Linked DNA regions of Homo sapiens: region 2 is linked to region 1. The links come from fine-mapping of genetic effects on gene expression. Tissue or cell type: whole blood. Region 1 holds a variant in brackets; the other region holds the start of a gene. All regions are shown on one strand. Distances are between the middles of the regions.

Region 1 (8,179 bases):
TTGGTGCCTCTGGTTTTGCTACGACAAATGCTTTTGGAATTGACAAGACGTGGTCAAGAACCTTTGAGCGCACTGCTGCAGTTTGGCGTGACATACCTGGAGGACTATTCGGCAGAGTACATCATTCAGCAAGGTGGCTGGGTATGAGCTGTTATATATTAAAAATATTTTCTTGAAAAAAAATTAGGTTTGTTGTTTTTCTTAAGAGATGGGTTCTTGCTGTGTTACCCGGGCTGGAGTGCAGTGTCTAATTGCTGGCACTATCATGGCAGGCTTCGGTCTCAAACTCCTGGGCTCAAGTGATCCTGCCTCAGGTCCTGAATAGCCAAGAGCACAGGCTGGGACTATAGGTGCCCACCACTGTGCCGTGCTCTATCCCGTACTTTTTGATATGTAATTATTATTATTATTCAGTTGGTTCAGTTGTTTATAAATTTTCCTTATATGTTCTTTGACCCTTGAATTACTTAGAAATGTATTTTTTAATTTCTAAATACTTACAGGTTTAAAAATTTTGTTTTCAATTACTAATTTAATTCTGTTTCATCAGAAAGCACGACCATCGTGGCATTGAAACTTGAGTTATAGCCTACTATCATGATCAATTTAAAAAATATATATATAGGGCTGGGTGCAGTGGTGCACATCTGTAATCCCAGTGCTTTGGGAGGCTGAGGTGGGTGAATCACCTGAGGTCAGGAGTTCAAGACCAGCCTGGTCAACATGACAAAACCCCATCTGTACAAAAAAATACAAAAAATTAACTGGGCTTGGTGGCATGTGCCTGTAATCCCAGCTACTCAGGAGGCCAAGGCAGGAGAATCACTTGAACCCGGGAGGCAGAGGTTGCAGTGAGCCAAGATGGCACCACTGCATTCCAGCCTGGGCAACAGAGCAACAACAACAACAACAACAAAATATATATATACACACACACACACACATATGTATATGTATATACACACATGTATATTTTTATGTATGTTTCAGAACATGTATTCTCTAATGGTTGGTGCAGAAGTCTGTACGTGTCCATTTACATTTAATCAGTCTTAATAATACGTATTTTAAATCTTTCAGTCATTTCCAATTATTTTGTCTAATTATTTACTAAGAGAGACATGTTCTATTTGCTACTATGGTGGTAGATTTTCCATTTTCCCTTTAGTTCTGTCAATTGTAGGTGACTAAAAGTTGTAATTATTGACCCCTGGACATTTATGCGGACTCTCTTTCTTTCTTTGGGCCTAGAAATGGTTTTTAAGTTTATTTGTTGTAATTTGCCCAACAGTCAGTGATTCTGTAGAGAGAGTACTTTTCATAAAGTATACTACTCATTATTGTTTTTTAGCCACTATGCATCTGAGGGTTTGAGTTAATTTTTAAAATATGTAAATTTAATTACTATGGATACTAATATCGAACATCCTAGGTTTACGTGCTTGGTAAATGCTTACTGAATAAAATCCTGAACATTTGTCTTAGGAAAATAAAAATATTTTTTGAGCTGTTCTTAAAAATAAGAATTGCGACAATTTATTGTTATTGTTGTCTTCCTACTTAAGTACTTTTTAAAACCTTTGGCTATTGTAGTGTATGGTTTGTATGATAGCCAGGAGACATCCCAGGTTAACTGCCATTTATCCCATATGGTGCTTTACAACAAGGGAAGAAAAATGCAGGGAATATTATGCACTCCCTTCTCAACTTTCAGTTTTATGATGATGTAGTACATCAAGGTTTGTTTGGTGATTGTAATTGGTTACAGAGAAAGTAAGTATATTACTCAACTCCAGTATCTGTGCCAAAAGAAAAGATCTACTGCATGGATAACTAGTTCATTAATACTTCTTTTTTTTTTGAAACAGTCTTGCTCTGTCATCCTGGCTTGAGTGCAGTGCGCAATTGCAGCCCACTGCAGCCTCCGCCTCCCAGGTTCAAGCTATTCTTGTGCCTCAGCCTCCTGAGTAGCAGAGATTACAGGTGTGTGCCACCATGACCAGCTACTTTTTGTATTTTTAGTAGAGATAGGGCTTCGCCATGTTGGCAGGCTGGTCTCAAACTCCTGGCCTCAAGTGATCCACCCACTTAGGCCTCCCAAAGTGCTGGGATTACAGGCATGAGCCACTGCACCTGGCCTTCATTAATATTTCAAATGTGTTTTATCTCTAAATTTGAATGTCCAATCTGTATTTCACATTGTTCGGTCTAAGCTCTCCATTTGCTTGTGTTTAAAACTAAGATATTAGGCCGGGTGCAGTGGCTTATGCCTATAATCCCAGCACTTTGGGAGGCCAAGGCAGGCGGATCACCTGAGGTCAGGAGTTTGAGACCATCCTGGCCAACATGGTGAGACCTCATCTCTACTAAAAATACAAAAATCATCTGGGTGTGGCTGAAGATGATGTGGAATGAGAAACAAATGTCAACATAATAAAATCTCAGTTAAAGTATTTTAAAAATTCTTAGTTGAGCAGCTCTGGGGGAATAAGGGCAAATATGCTTGTTATGAACTGCACTGAAATCTACCAAAGTTAATGTTTACTTTGTGTAGATCCATTTGTCTATTTTATTTATTTTTCCCAGTGAAAAGTGTGTTTTGATAGAGAACTTTTCATTCTATAAATACACTGTGAGTTACTAAAATATCATGAATTTTGTTTATTCCTGAAACATAGTTAAACTGTACATATGACATGGCTTATGTTAAAAATACCCAGTGCTCAGTTTTGAAAGATAGGCAAAAAAAAAAAAAAGTATAGGAGAAACTGAAGAATGTACACTTTTTTAGGGGGCACATTTTGCTGTAAATCTGGAAATTTGATAGACTTGATTGTGAAAACTGAGCATTAAAGGTTTTGATTGATTAAAAAAAAAATTATCTGGGTGTGGTGGCAGGCACCTGTAACACCAGCTACTTGGGAGGCTAAGGCAGGAGAATTGCTTAAACCAGGGAGGCAGAAGTTTCAGTGAGCTGAGATCGTGCCATTGCACTCCAGCCTGGGCAACAAGAGCGAAACTCTGTATCAAACAAACAAAAACCCAAGATACTGCATTTTTTTTTTTTTTTCAGATGTAGTCTCCCTGTGTCGCCCAGGCTGGAATGCAGTGGCACTATCTTGGCTCACTGCAAGCTCCGCCTCCCAGGTTCACGCCATTCTCCTGCCTCAGCCTCCCAAGTAGCTGGGACTACAGATGGCTGCCACCACACCCGGCTAATTTTTTGTATTTTTAGTAGAGATGGGTTTTCACTGTGTTAGCCAGGATGGTCTCGATCTCCTGACCTCGTGATCCACCCGCCTCAGCCTCCCAAAGTGCTGGGATTGCAGGCGTGAGCCACCGCGCCCGGCCGATATTGCTTTTTTTTTAATGCCAGTTGGTGAAAATGTATCCTGTGACATAAGCTGTCAACATGAATCTCCTTAAGATACTGTGTGCTGAACATTACATTGACAGCTCTTAAAACCCTTCCAGAAGAGAATCATTTGACCACATGATATCGCATGTCTGTTATATAAAGCCTGTGGTATGATTTCCACGGGGAATGTATTTGTCATTAGTCACTTGAACACAACATCAAGTGAAACAAACTGCCTACCTCTCAAGGTGCAGCTACTTTTGAAAACCTGCAGCAGAGGAGGTGGTGCCAGCAGCCATAATCTGTTGGATGAATGGAGTGATATAGCACATAGTCAGTTAGGAACAGGCAGGCTTTGGACATATAGATTTGAAGGAGAAAAATAATATTTTGTTTTCTGAATTATTAACAGAAATGGCTAGGACTTAGAAACAGGGTCTTGCTTTGTTGCCCTGGCTGGAGTACAGTGGCATGATCATGGCTCATTTGCAGCCTCAACTTCCTGGGCTCAAGTGATCCTCCCACCTCAGCCTCCCTAGTAGCTGGGACCACAGGTGTGCATGCACTACCACACTTGGCTTATTTTTTGCAGAGAGAGGTTTCACTATGTTGCCCAAGCTGGTCTCAAACTCCTGGCCTCAAGCAATCCTCCCCGCTTGGCCTCCCAAAGTGCTGGGATTACAGGCATGCGCCACCTTGCCCAGCCTGTTTTCTCTTTCTACCTTGTTTTTTTTTTTTTTTCACTCTGCCTTTTTACCCGGCGAATGATGAACTGAGAAAAGGATTAGAAATCACAAGATTTGTTTCTTGCCCCAGCTCTGCCAAATACTAGCCCTGTGTTTTGGAAGGATTCATTTAACTTCTCTGAACCTCAGTTTCAACTACAAAAAGGGAAGAATAGCTTCTCTGTCTCACAAAAATAATGATGTGAAAGTGTTTTGTGAAAATGTCACACTTTTACAAATGCCAGGTTTTCACATGCGTCTCTGAAGAGTGTGGTTTTTTTCCCTCTCCTTAAGTCTGATCACCATTTCCTCTTAGTTTCAGTTTTGACTTTTATTTGCCCTGCAGCCCGGTGAGGGCACAGACTGGTTCATGTGCTGTGATTCTCCCTGAGTCATCCTTGCTCCCTCCCTCCTCATTCTCTTTTCATTTCCTGGGCTTGTGTTGCTACGTTAGAAGTCTGTCTGTCTCCTGGAAAGGGCAGAGCAAGTCCACTGTGGTAAGGCTTGTATTTTACTTTCTCCGTCGTCACATGATAAATACTTCTTGTGAAAGATTTACTTTTAGATTCCATAAAAGATTACTGGAGGGAATGTCATCTGTCTATTGTAATATTTAAGTATTTTGAATAAAATTAATCTTTGTCATTTTCTCTTGACATGAAGCTTCTGATTTTAGAATAGGTTTTTGTTTGTTTAATCTAGGATATTTAAAGACTATCTCTTGGAAGCTTTTAGGTTAATAATTTGTTAGAATAGTTTTCATATTGTGGGAGGTGACACACAGGGATGATCTGAAATTAATGAAGTGGGTTGCAGCTAAAATCAATTTAGTAAGAGTAAGTACTGTTTTGG[GA/G]AAATCTGCCTGCTGTATATGTGGGTGTGGATGTTTACTGTGTTGTACTCTGAAATGTGTTTTTTGTGGATCTTCCTCATCAAGTTGGGTGGAAAATTACTTCTCTGTAATTTCTTCAGCACTCTCCATTTTCTTATTTTAGGTTAATAATGATCTGAGAGGCGCATTTGGTTATAAGGGTCCAAAGCAGTGATCTGTTTCCATTTTGCGACTTCGAGGCCTCAGAAATATAAAACTAGCTGGTTGATCCCGGCTAGTTTTATATTTTTGAGCCCTCAAAGTTACAAAATGTCAGTGGAGCCTTTGTGTGTTTTGTGTCAGTGGAGCCAAAGAGATGGATACTCCCAACAATACAAATATTTTATATGAAGAATGATTTAGATTGTCAGAATCGTTCTAAGACTACTTGTAGATGTTATTCTAATGTAAGTTGTAACTAACGTATTATCCAAAACAGCTCTTTTTCTTGACAGATATATATATAAAGTCTGAGAAGTAATGATAGAGGTTTGTTGGCATAAATCTTAAGGGAAATGAGTCCTTAGAAAATTTACCAACGTAGATGGGCTTTGGAATTTTGCCAAAGCTTCTTCAGATGGAAAAGTTAAGTTCATAGGAGCTCAGCTCAGCAGCAGCTGTGTCTCAGAAGGTAAAATATTGCTTGAGGGGGCAGAATAATTTGTAACTGATGTGACCCCCTGCCCCCACCAAAAAAAAAGTGAAACAAAAAAATACAATCAATATAGACATCATGATGCAGCCAATTTTTGTAATAGGTCTCTGAGCAATTGTCAACCTGATTTTTACTTAGGTCTACCACCAAAGTAAAGTTATGTTTGTATTTTATTTTACATTTATTTTGATACGTTCCTTTACTTAGTTTTTTACTTAGTTCCTACCACCAAAGCAAAGTTATATTTGTATTTTATTTTACATTTATTTTGTTATATTCCTTTTATCTACTTAGGTTTCTTCTCTACTTCCCTTTTTAATTGAAGAGTTTAATGCATGTATCTGTGTGTTTGCTTGAAAAAAAACACCAAGTATAACATGTTCTATCTATGAATACTTCTGGCCATTAACTCAAAAGGTACTATATTACAGACAGAAAAGCACCAGAAAGCAATCAGGGACTTCATCTAAGAGGTAGGACAGCATAGTTGGTAAAAATACAGACCCTGGAGGCAAACTGCCTGGGCTTGAATCCCAGCTTTATTACTTTGGGAAAACTACTTATCTTCTTTACTTGTTTTGGTATCCATGTCTGTGAAATGGAAGTAATAATAATCCTCTCATAGCATTGTTGTGAGGTTTCAATAGATGAAGTGAAGACTTTAGAAGGGCACATGATAAGAATTATATAAGGGTTACCTATTATTGCTATCCAATTTGTCATAGCAAGCTAAGGGACCTTGGGCAAGTTACTCAAACCCTTTGGCTTCATTTATTTAAAAACAAAAACAAAAAAGACGCAGTTCTCTGCTTCTTTGTGCATATTTAAACTCATGGTTTATCCCATGAGTTTTATATTTTTGAGCCCTCGAAATTACTCCTTTGCATTTTATGTCAGTGAAGCCAAAGAGACAGATACTCTCAACAACACAAATATTTTGTATTAAAAACTATTTAGATTGTTAGAATGGTTCCGAGGCTACTTGTAGATATTATTCTTCTAATATGATAAGTTGTAAGTAATATATTATCCAAAACAGCTCTTTTTCTTTTAGTGAAAGCCTGCTCTTCATTATGACATTAATTATTAAGAGAGGCTCGGCCGAGCATGGTGGCTAACGCCTGTAATACCAGCACTTTGGGAGGCCGAGGTGGGTGACTCACAAGGTCAGGAGATCGAGACCATCCTGACTAACACGGTGAAACCCCGTCTCTACTAAAAAATACAAAAAATTAGCTGGGCGTGGTGGCAGGCACCTGTAGTCCCAGCTACTCGGGAGGCTGAGGCAGGAGAATGGCGTGAACCCAGGAGGCAGAGGTTGCAGTGAGCCAAGACTGCGCCACTGCACTCCAGCCTGGGCGACAGAGTGAGACTCCATCTCAAAAACAAAACAAAACAAAAAAAAGAGGCTCCAGCCCGGTGACATGGCAAAACCCTGTCTCAAAAATATAAAACTGAGGCTGGACGTGGTGGCTCACGCCTGTAATCCCAACACTTTGGGAGGCCAAGGTGGGCAGATCACCTGAAGTCCGGAGTTCGAGACCAGCCTGGCCAACGTGGTGAAACCCCATCTCTATGAAAAATACAAAAATTAGCCAGGCATGGTCGTGCATGCCTGTAGTCCCAGCAACTCGGGAGGCTGAGGCAGGAGAATTGCTTGAACCCAGGAGGCGGAGGTTGCAGTGAACCAGGATTGTGCCTCTGCGCTCCAACCTGGGTGAACAGAGAGAGACTCTGTCTCAGGAAAGATAAATAAATAAATGAAATAAAAAATAGAAAGATTAGCCAGGCATGGTGGTGGGTTCCTGTAATCCCAACTACTCAGGTGGCTGAGGCAGGAGAATCTCTTGAACCCAGGTTGCAGAACCCAGGAGCTGAGATTGTGCTGCTGCACTCCAGCCTAGGCAACAGAGTGCTATTAAAACAAAAGAAAACATTGACCGGGTGCAGTGGCTCACTCCTGTAATCCCAGCACTTTGGGAGGCCGAGGCAGGCAGATTGCCCAAGTCCAGGAGCTCAAGACCAGCCTGGGCAACATGGTGAGTGAGAGCCCATCTCTACAAAAAATATAAAAATTAACTGGAAGTAATCTGTGGTCCCATTTACTCAGGAGGCTGAGGCAGGAGGATCACTTGAGCCTGGGAGGTCAAGGCTGCAGTAAGCCAAGATTGCGCCACTGACCTCCAGCCTGGGTAACAGTAAGACCTTGTCTTAAAAAAAAAAAAAAAAAAAAAAAAAGAGGCTGCTATTTTTATATTTTTGTTTTATGTGAATTGGTCCCCAGGAGTAAAAGCTTAGTAATCTGTTCTTTCTTGTAAGACTTCTTACATAACAGCACAGAATGTTCAGTGAATCTTCATTAAAATGTCACGTCCTAAATACAGAAATACATTGTAAGGTAGGGAGGCCATGACAGCAAGACATAAAGCTATTTAATCTGAATTGGCCGGGTGCAGTGGCTCACACCTGTAATCCCAGCACTTCGGGAGGCCGAGGCAGGCAGATCATTTGAGGTCAGGACTTTGAGACCAGCAACATGGTGAATCCCTGTCTCTACTAAAAATTAAAAA
Region 2 (8,179 bases), 68 kb after region 1:
CTGCCTCCCAGGGCCCTTCGTGCCACTGGCCCCTTTCTTTCCACCCCCATATGCTACCCCTGCCTACTCCCTTCCCTGGCCCTGGGTTGCCACTCCTGTCCTGTTCTCCTGCTGTCCCCACCCCAGCCCTGACCCCAGATGGCTCTCCCTACAAAAACACCAGAACCCCAGAGAAGCTCAATCCCCCAAGTCCATCTGCATTTTAAGAAGCCCTCACGCACTCCCAGCCCAGAGAGGGAAGCTGTAAAGGTGGACAGGTCATGTCGGGCTTTGAACCTGCAATGTGATCTCACCTTCCCCGTCTGTAAAAGGGGACACTCCCTGCCTTGTGGGATCACATGCAGTATCAGAAAAAGCACCTGACATGTGACATCCACTTACAAAGGGTTTTCCCTTCTCTTTGGTTTTGGGGGAGAATGGGAGAGGCCCAAGCAGAAGCTCCTGGAACACCGCCCATCCCGGACCCAGGGTTGTAGTCACCTGAACACTCACCCAGACAAGGGAAACTTCACAGAATGAATGTGAGGAATAAAATGAGACATTCAGTTACACAAATTAAACCAAACCCAGATGCAGAGGTGCCCCATAACAGAAATAGAGCAACTACTGCCAGCCTTGGATGAAAGCTCTTGGCCAAGGGCCGTGACGGCGGCGGGGAGGTTCAGCAGCTGTCCCCAAGCACACAGGACATTTGGCACCTCCAAGCCCAGCCTGTCCCACCAGGCCACGGCACACTTTCCTTCCTCTGAAGAAAGGGGGTTTGTTAAGCCAACGAGGAGGGAAGCCAAGGACTGCCCCCGGCGCCAGCATGGCTATGAGCATAGAAGCGGGCTGAGCCACAGGCTGGGGGATCCCATGCAGACCAGGCAAAGCCCAGGCAGGATGCTCTGCAGAAAGTTCCCTGGTGATCCGGACCCGGAGCCAGACTGAGCCGCAGCCCCAGAAGACAGGTATCTCCTCCCCTGGGGCCACAGCAGCCACAGAGGCCACCCACGGCTTCCACTAGGACAGTGTGTCTTTCCAGTTACTCTACGTACCTAAAAGTGACCAGCCCCCTTTCAGGTCTGGTCTATGATCCAGATGGTGATCTTTCCCCCACTTTTTTTTTGAGACGGAGTCTCGCTCTGTCCCCCAGGCTGGAGTGCAGTGGCGCGATCTCGGCTCACTGCAAGCTCCACCTCCCGGGTTCACACCATTCTCCTGCCTCAGCCTCCCAGGTAGCTGGGACTATGGGCGCCCCCCACCACGCACAGCTAATTTTCTGTATTTTTAGTAGAGACGGGGTTTCAACGTCTTAGTCAGGACGGTCTTGATCTCCTGACCTCATGATCCGCCCAACTCGGCCTCCCAAAGTGCTGGGATTACAGGCGTGAGCCACCGCGCCCGGCTGGTCTTTCCCCTTTAAGACCCCACTTCCCACCCCCACCCTGGCCAAGCTGATAGGATTCAAGGAGTGCGGCGGTGCAATCACAGCTCACTATAGCCTTGACCTCCCGGGCTCGAGCAATCCTCCCGTCTCAGCCTCCCAAAGCCACTTCCTCCTTTTCTTAGTTGTTGGCTTCTTCTACAGAAAAGGATCCTGAAAACAAACACCTAAAATGCCAACCAAGAATTCAATCTGCAAGGCAGCAGCACCTCCAGAAATAGCTGCTTTGTGGCCTGTTTGCCATTTATGTGAAACTTCCCCATTTTGGACCAACGCAGGCAGAAAGAGAAAAGGAGGAAGAGGAAGGAAAAGAGGCAGGCTGTGTTGGGGCTGGATGGGGCTGTAGGAACCTGCCAGCAGTGGCTCTTGGGGAAAACCCCACTGCGAGGTTTCTGAACCCCTGCCCCGGAAGCTTCCCCTTTCCCACACACGTCACTCGCTGCCTTGGAATCTGGGCTGCCTCCCTCCCAGGGGCTCACAGGGGAGCGAGGCCACAGAAAGGCTCCTTACCCCCAGTGGCCTAACAGGTGTGACATGTGGAGGGGGAATCTGGGCAGTGTGCCTGATGCTCAGAGCTGAGACCCTGAAGTCCAACTCCCTCGGGTGTGACCTTGGACAAGTTACTTAGCCTCTCCTTGCCTCAGTTACACCATCTGGAGAATGGGGATGCTACCCTCGTCTGACCACCGTGATGTGAGCCAGTCAGCACACATCAAGTGCTCCGTGAGCGTCCGGCACACAGGTGCTTGTCTCTGTCCTGTGCTTCAGCTCCATCAGTGTCTTCTTCAGACCTGTCATTGGCTTGGGGCAAGGATATATGTGGCCGCTGAGGGCGGTCCGCCAGGTATGGCAGCCATGGAGCTGCTAATTAGGCCCTGTGAGTGGGAGGCCCTGTGGGGTGGGCAGGGGCAGACGCCCAGCTGCTCTCGGGGACACTCCAGGCCTGTGCTGCCCTCCACAGCCCCAGCTGGAGAATGGTGACCAGATGTCAACGACAGGAAGCATTTCCAGAGGCCACAGCTCTGCAGGGAGGTCTCTCATGGGCTGACAGCCAGAGCCAGCGCTCCGGGTCCCCTGAAAAAACGGGCACAGTCCTCGGTCACGTCGAGGACCTGCTCAGCCCCTCCACTTGGCACCGGAGAGAGGATGACTCACGGCCCTTCTGCCTGGAAGGCAGGCTCCAGTGTCAAATGTCCATCCGCCTCCATCACCCTCATCCATCCTTGTCAGTCCAGGGGCCTGGGCACTGCTGGGGCTCCTGGGCAGACAGTTCCCCCTTGCAAATGAGTGGGACCCTCAGCTCCTTCGATCAGCATCCTCACGTCAGCCGAGCCTGTGAGCACCCCTAAGCAAGGCCTCTGAGCTGGGCATGCGACACCCCTTCCCACCCAGGCACCCTCCCCCTAGAATCCCCCATACCACCCTGGGGCCATGCCCCGCTTCCCTCTCTGGCAAGCTCCTGCACAACCTTGAGACCACCTGACAGCCACCGTCTATCCTGCCCAACCTCCTCAGAAGCACTAACAGCACCTCGCCCCAGCCACGGCAGGTCTCTGCACCCCTCGTCTCAGTCACCACTCTCACATCTCATGAACAGAGACACGAGCTGCTTCCTCATGCTCCCTGTGCCCGTCCTGGGAGATCCCTGCCTTTAAACCCCAGCCACGAACTGCTGACCCCGCATTTCCTCTTCCCTCCCTGGGCAAGAGGGGCAGAAGGGGCAGGGACGCACACCCTGGGCCGCAGGCAGAGGCTTGGCCAGGGTCGTCCTCCCGGCAGTGCCTCCCTGGAGCTCTGTCTACCTCAACTCCTGATGCCAGAGGATCCCTCTGCGCTCCCCACACCCTTAAGACCCCAGCTCAGGGAATCTGGTCTCGGTCATCACTCCCAGGGGACTGCAGGGCCCCAGGACGGCACACATTCAGGCCCAGGAGAGCTCCCCCCATCTCAAAGCCTCCTGTGGGTGGAGATGGAATGTGGAAAAACCGCATCCTCTGCAGCTCCCCCACAGTGAGAGCGAGGACTGAGGGTGTGGATAAGGCTCCAGGAAGGGGGTGCAAGCCTGAGAAGGTGGAAGAGCTCTGGGTGGGTCCATCTGCTCCTCACCTGCCCCAACCCTGCCTGCAGGTGAAGGCCGGTCCAGCCGCAGAAGGCCCAGCCCCCAGCCCACTTACAGAATCCGCACTGTGCTCCTCCAGCCGGCCCGGCCCCTCGCTGCCCACCGAGCCATCATGACCCCAGCACCGCTGCACATTCGTATTTGTTGAATGAATGAATGAACCCTTGCCAGCCCAGCCACTTGGTGGCTGAGGGCTTCAGAGCTCTCCCAGGGTCCCCTGGGGTCATTCAGCCACTCAACAGTTTCCCAGCAGCAGCAGCGAGGATCCGCACATCATTGCCAGTGCTCTAAGGAGCGGGCGAGCCCCAGTAAGCGGCCGCTCTGACCGCGCTTTGTCAGCCCTGAGCTCCGCTCGGGAGGAGCCGGCAGGTGTCTGCGGTGCTGGAAAGACCACGGTGTGGGCGGGGATTCCGATCCGCCGGCAAGGGTGGCCTGCACCCGGCCAGGCCCGCGGGTTTTCTCCTCTCCGGGGCTGGCCTCGGCCCCTCCCCCTCCCCGCGCCCCGCACCCCTCCCCTGAATCCCCAGGCCACGTGGAGAGGACACAACAAAGCCTTCCCCGCCTCCGAGGCGGACCCGACCCTCAGCACCGACCTGCCGGCCGCGCCGAGGAGGGCGCCCGGGCGGAGGGGAGGCGGGAGAGACCCGGCCCTCAGGTCGCTGCTGAGGCCTGGGGCTCTGACCCCCCGCCTCCCCTCCTCTGGCTCCCACCGCGGTCGGGCCCAGGGCGGGCGGCGGGCCCTGAGCTCCACGCCGGGGCAGGCGGCAGGCAGGGGTCACGGGCTGGGGCTCGGCGCGTACCCCGGGAGGGGCGCGGGTGCACTCACCACCCTCCAGCCGCGGGGGCGCGGGCGCGTCCGGGCCGAGGCAGCGTCTCCCAGGCGCGCGGACACGGTCGACTACCCGCTTCCTCCTTATGGCGCCCCGCGCGCTTCCTCCTTCGGCCCCCCACGCCCGGGCCCGCCCCGGCCCGCCCCGGCCCGCCCCCGGCGGCTTGCGGGGACCCGGGGAGCCCGCGCCGGCGCGGGGCTGTGGAGCGGGGCGGGGAGCCGGCAGCGCAGTGAGAACCAGGCTTTCCACCCTTACCCCTTACGCGACTGTTTCAGACAGTGTCGTCCAACTTTAAGTTGGCCACTTACTCCAGCGCCGCTGGGATAATTCCTAATGATTCTCTGGGAAACATTCAGAATCCCCAGGCTGTTTCTGGAACAGTCTGGGGTGGTCATTCTAGGTCCTCACGGAACCAGGGGTTTGGAAAGTGGGTGAAGCCATGTGGGTTGCAGAGAATCTGGCCCAGCCCCTCACCAGTCCCTGTGCTTGTTGTTTATTCTTTAATTATTTGGATATCAACTCTGATTTAAAACATCAGTTTAACATATAGATAATGCTGGGACTACAGGCGCACACCACACCCAACTAATTTCTTTTTCAGTTTTTAGTGGAGGTGGTGGGGGGGGGGTCTCCACCTCTGGAGGTCTCAGGCTGGTCTCGAACTCCTGGGCTCCAGCGATGCTTCCCACCTCGGCCTCCCAAGGTGCTGGAATGACAGGCCAGTCCATGCATCCCCGGATGCAGCTCTCACCGGCAGTGCTGCTGCAGAGCCCTTTGTGGGCGTCTTCACTTCTCTTGAGTGTGATACCTAGGAGTGGAAATGCGAATCATAGGGCTGGACGAGCTTCATGGTATTAAAAACTGCCTGCTTTCCAAGGTGATGCACACCGTTCGGCACTTCCACCAGCCCTGTTGGAGCGTCCAGTTGCTCTGCGCCCTCGCGTGGGCTCACTCCCTGAGCCCACTGTGGCTCCTCCAGACGCCCTCACTTCTACCCGGGCTCCCTAGACTCTTGCCTCTTTTATAAAAGGTCAGAGGATGTCACTCACGCTTTAACATCCTCTGAATAAAAGCCAAGTTCCTTTCAGTGGCCCGCAGAGTCCCACGCGACCTGCCCTGCTCTAAGCAAATCCTACCCTGTCCCTGTTCCTCCTCGGCAGCCCCATGGCCTCTGGCTTTCACCAGGCCTCACTTCATTTTCCTCCACAGCCAGCATCGCAGCATGACATACCACGGAGTCGTTTGTGTGTGTGTTGCCTACCTCCCCTCTCGGAATGTAGCCTCCACGAGGACAGGGGCTTGTTTCCTGCATGCTCTTCACTCGGGCTGGGCACTCTGGGGGGCTAACAAATGGAAGATCCTGTGAGCAGGGAAACCGTCAGATGGCATTAGGGGCCGGTGCCCTGCAGAAGACGAAAGGGAAACTTCATGGACTGAGGCCAGGTCATCTGCAGGGTGGTGTTCAAATTCATGGTACAATGTCAGCAGGCGCCCAGATGGGAAAAGAGAGGGACGTGCACCTGGGCACAAGAAGCTGCAGGGGCCCCTCCCAGGGCAGGCGAGAGCTTGGACAGTGGGGCACAGTGGGCAAGAGGCCAGTGGGGTGGCCTGAAGGCAGGAGGCTCCAGCAGCCTGGATGAGCAGTTGGATTTTATCCTCAGCACTGTGGGGGCCACTGGCCCTGTCATGCAGGGCAGGACCTGTACCAATTGGCCCCCACAGTCTCTGCCTCTCCTGTTGGCTTTTTGCAGGTCTCTCAAGTGCTTCTTACAGTCAGGGTAGAGCCTCCCCGCCTCAATCCTCCCTGTCCTGATCTGCTGCCTCTATGATGCTTTGGGCTTCAAAATCTGTCTGCAGTATTTGTAAAATGAGAGAGGGTGATGTTTCCTGCAAAACAACCACTTCAAAAAGAAAGGGGGGCGGGGTGCCAGAAAACAATTCAGGGGGTGACGGACTGGGGGGCTATGGAAGGGTCCAGGGAAATTCCGGGGATGATGGGATTCTTCTATACAGGGATTGTGGTGGATGCCACACAATTGTACACTTTTGTGAGAACTCTGCACGAAGAATGGTGAGTTTTACTGTATGTAAAATTATACCTTAATTAACAAATGAAACAATATACACATACATGAGAGAATGATGACTTTATTTTTTTTTTTGAAACAGGATCTAGCTCTGTCACCCATGCTGGAGTGCAGTGGTGTGATCACAGCTCACTGCAGCCTTGACCTCCCAGGCTCGAGTGATCCTCCTGCCTCAGCCTCCCAAGTATCTGGGACTGCAGGCATGCACCGCCACGCCTGGCTAATTTTTTAAAAATTTTTTTTAGACGGAGTCTGGCTGTGTCACCCATGCTGGAGTGCAATGGTGTGATTTCCGCTCACTGCAACTTCTGCCTCCCGGGTTCAAGTGATTCTCCAGCCTCAGCCTCCCAAGTAGCTGGGATTACAGGCACCCACCACCATGATTGGCTGGCTAATTTTTGTATTTTTAGTAGAGACGGGGTTTCACCATATTGGCCAGGCTGTTCTCGAACTCCTGACCTCAGGTGATCTGCCCGCCTCAGACTCCCAGAGTGCTGGGATTACAGGCGTGTGCCACCACACCTGGCCTTTTTTTTTTTTTTTTTTTTTTTTTTTTGGGACAGGGTCTTGCTATGTTCCCCAGGCTGGTCTTGAACTCCTGGGCTCAAGTAATCCTCCCACCTCGGCCTCCCAAAGTGCTGGGGTTACAGGCATGAACCACTGCACCCGACCTGAATGATGTTTTTGGCAATGAAAATGAAACACAAAATCCAGCAAGGTTTGACGGGGAAGGCGAGCTGGCGACCACATAGTCACAGTCGGCCTTTGCTTCCGCTTTATGCTGCAGTTTCTCACTGTCACTTCCTGCCACCGGGCTCGTCTTCCTGTGAAAATTCAGCCCCTCTTCCTCAGTTACCCCTTTGCAACAGAACGAGGCCGGCATTTTCTAAAGCGTCCTTGAGGAGTCCAGTTCCTAAAAGATTATTTCAGAGTCCACTGTTGTGGGCTGACTTGAATGCTCTCAAAATTCGTAAGTTGAAGCCCTGACCCCCAGGACCTCAGAACGTGACTGTGCTTGGACACAGGGACTTTCCAGAGGTGATTAAGGTGAAGTGAGGTCACTGGATGGCCCTCCTCCTATCTGACTGGTGTCCTGATGGGGACGCGGACACCCACACAGGAACGGACCCGGGGAGAACAACACATCGTCTCTGCGCCAGGGAGAGAGGCGTCCGGGGAACCCAGCCGTGCCCACGCATTTATCTCCGCCTTCCGGCTCAGAATTGTGAGGAAACCCGCTTCTGTTGTGCAAGTCCCGGGTCTGTGGTGCTCGGCCATGGCGCCCCCAGAACTGCATCCCCACCTTCTGCTCTGAGCCACCCATCCCCTCTGGAAGGGCTGAGCTTCTCTCCCTTTCCACCTTCTGTTCTGAGCCACCCGTCCCCTCCAGAAGGGCTGAGCTTCTCTCTCTTTCACTGCCTATGCTCTGGGAAACTTTCAGAATCCCCAGGCTGTTTCTGGAATAGTCTGGGATGGTCATTTTCGGTCCTCACAGAACCGGGGGTTTGGAAAGTAGGTGAAGCCATATGGGTTGCAGAGAATCTGGCCCAGCCCCTCACTAGTCCCTGTGCTTGTTAGTTATTCTTTAATTACTTGGATATCAACTCTGATTTAAAACATCAATTTAACATACAGATAATGCTGGGACTGCAGCTTCGCCAGGTGGCCTTCCTCTCCCGGTCTCGGGAGGCGTCACCCCCATCTTGTCCCCCCAAGA

Evidence for each region. PIP is the estimated chance that this variant, and not a neighbour inherited with it, causes the effect.
Region 2: BID starts here. The variant in region 1 is fine-mapped to the expression of BID in whole blood (INTERVAL, PIP 0.99).

What each region holds. Positions count from the first base shown.
Region 1 is chr22:17,702,246-17,710,424 of GRCh38, forward strand. BCL2L13 (BCL2 like 13) reads left to right here. Exons shown (of 7, transcript NM_015367.4): 6 at 1-141. Among named protein-coding and RNA genes, the nearest start is that of MIR3198-1, 58 kb to the right of the region's middle. RefSeq lists enhancers at 4,068-4,117, 4,138-4,187. The variant GA/G (reference allele first, on the strand shown) is at 4,936.
Region 2 is chr22:17,770,010-17,778,188 of GRCh38, forward strand. BID (BH3 interacting domain death agonist) reads right to left here and starts at 4,460. Exons shown (of 6, transcript NM_001196.4): 1 at 4,372-4,460. LINC00528 (long intergenic non-protein coding RNA 528) reads left to right here and starts at 7,281. Exons shown (of 1, transcript NR_103718.1): 1 at 7,281-8,179. RefSeq lists enhancers at 1,789-1,928, 7,316-7,795 and silencers at 3,969-4,298, 4,329-4,398, 4,419-4,468, 4,489-4,588.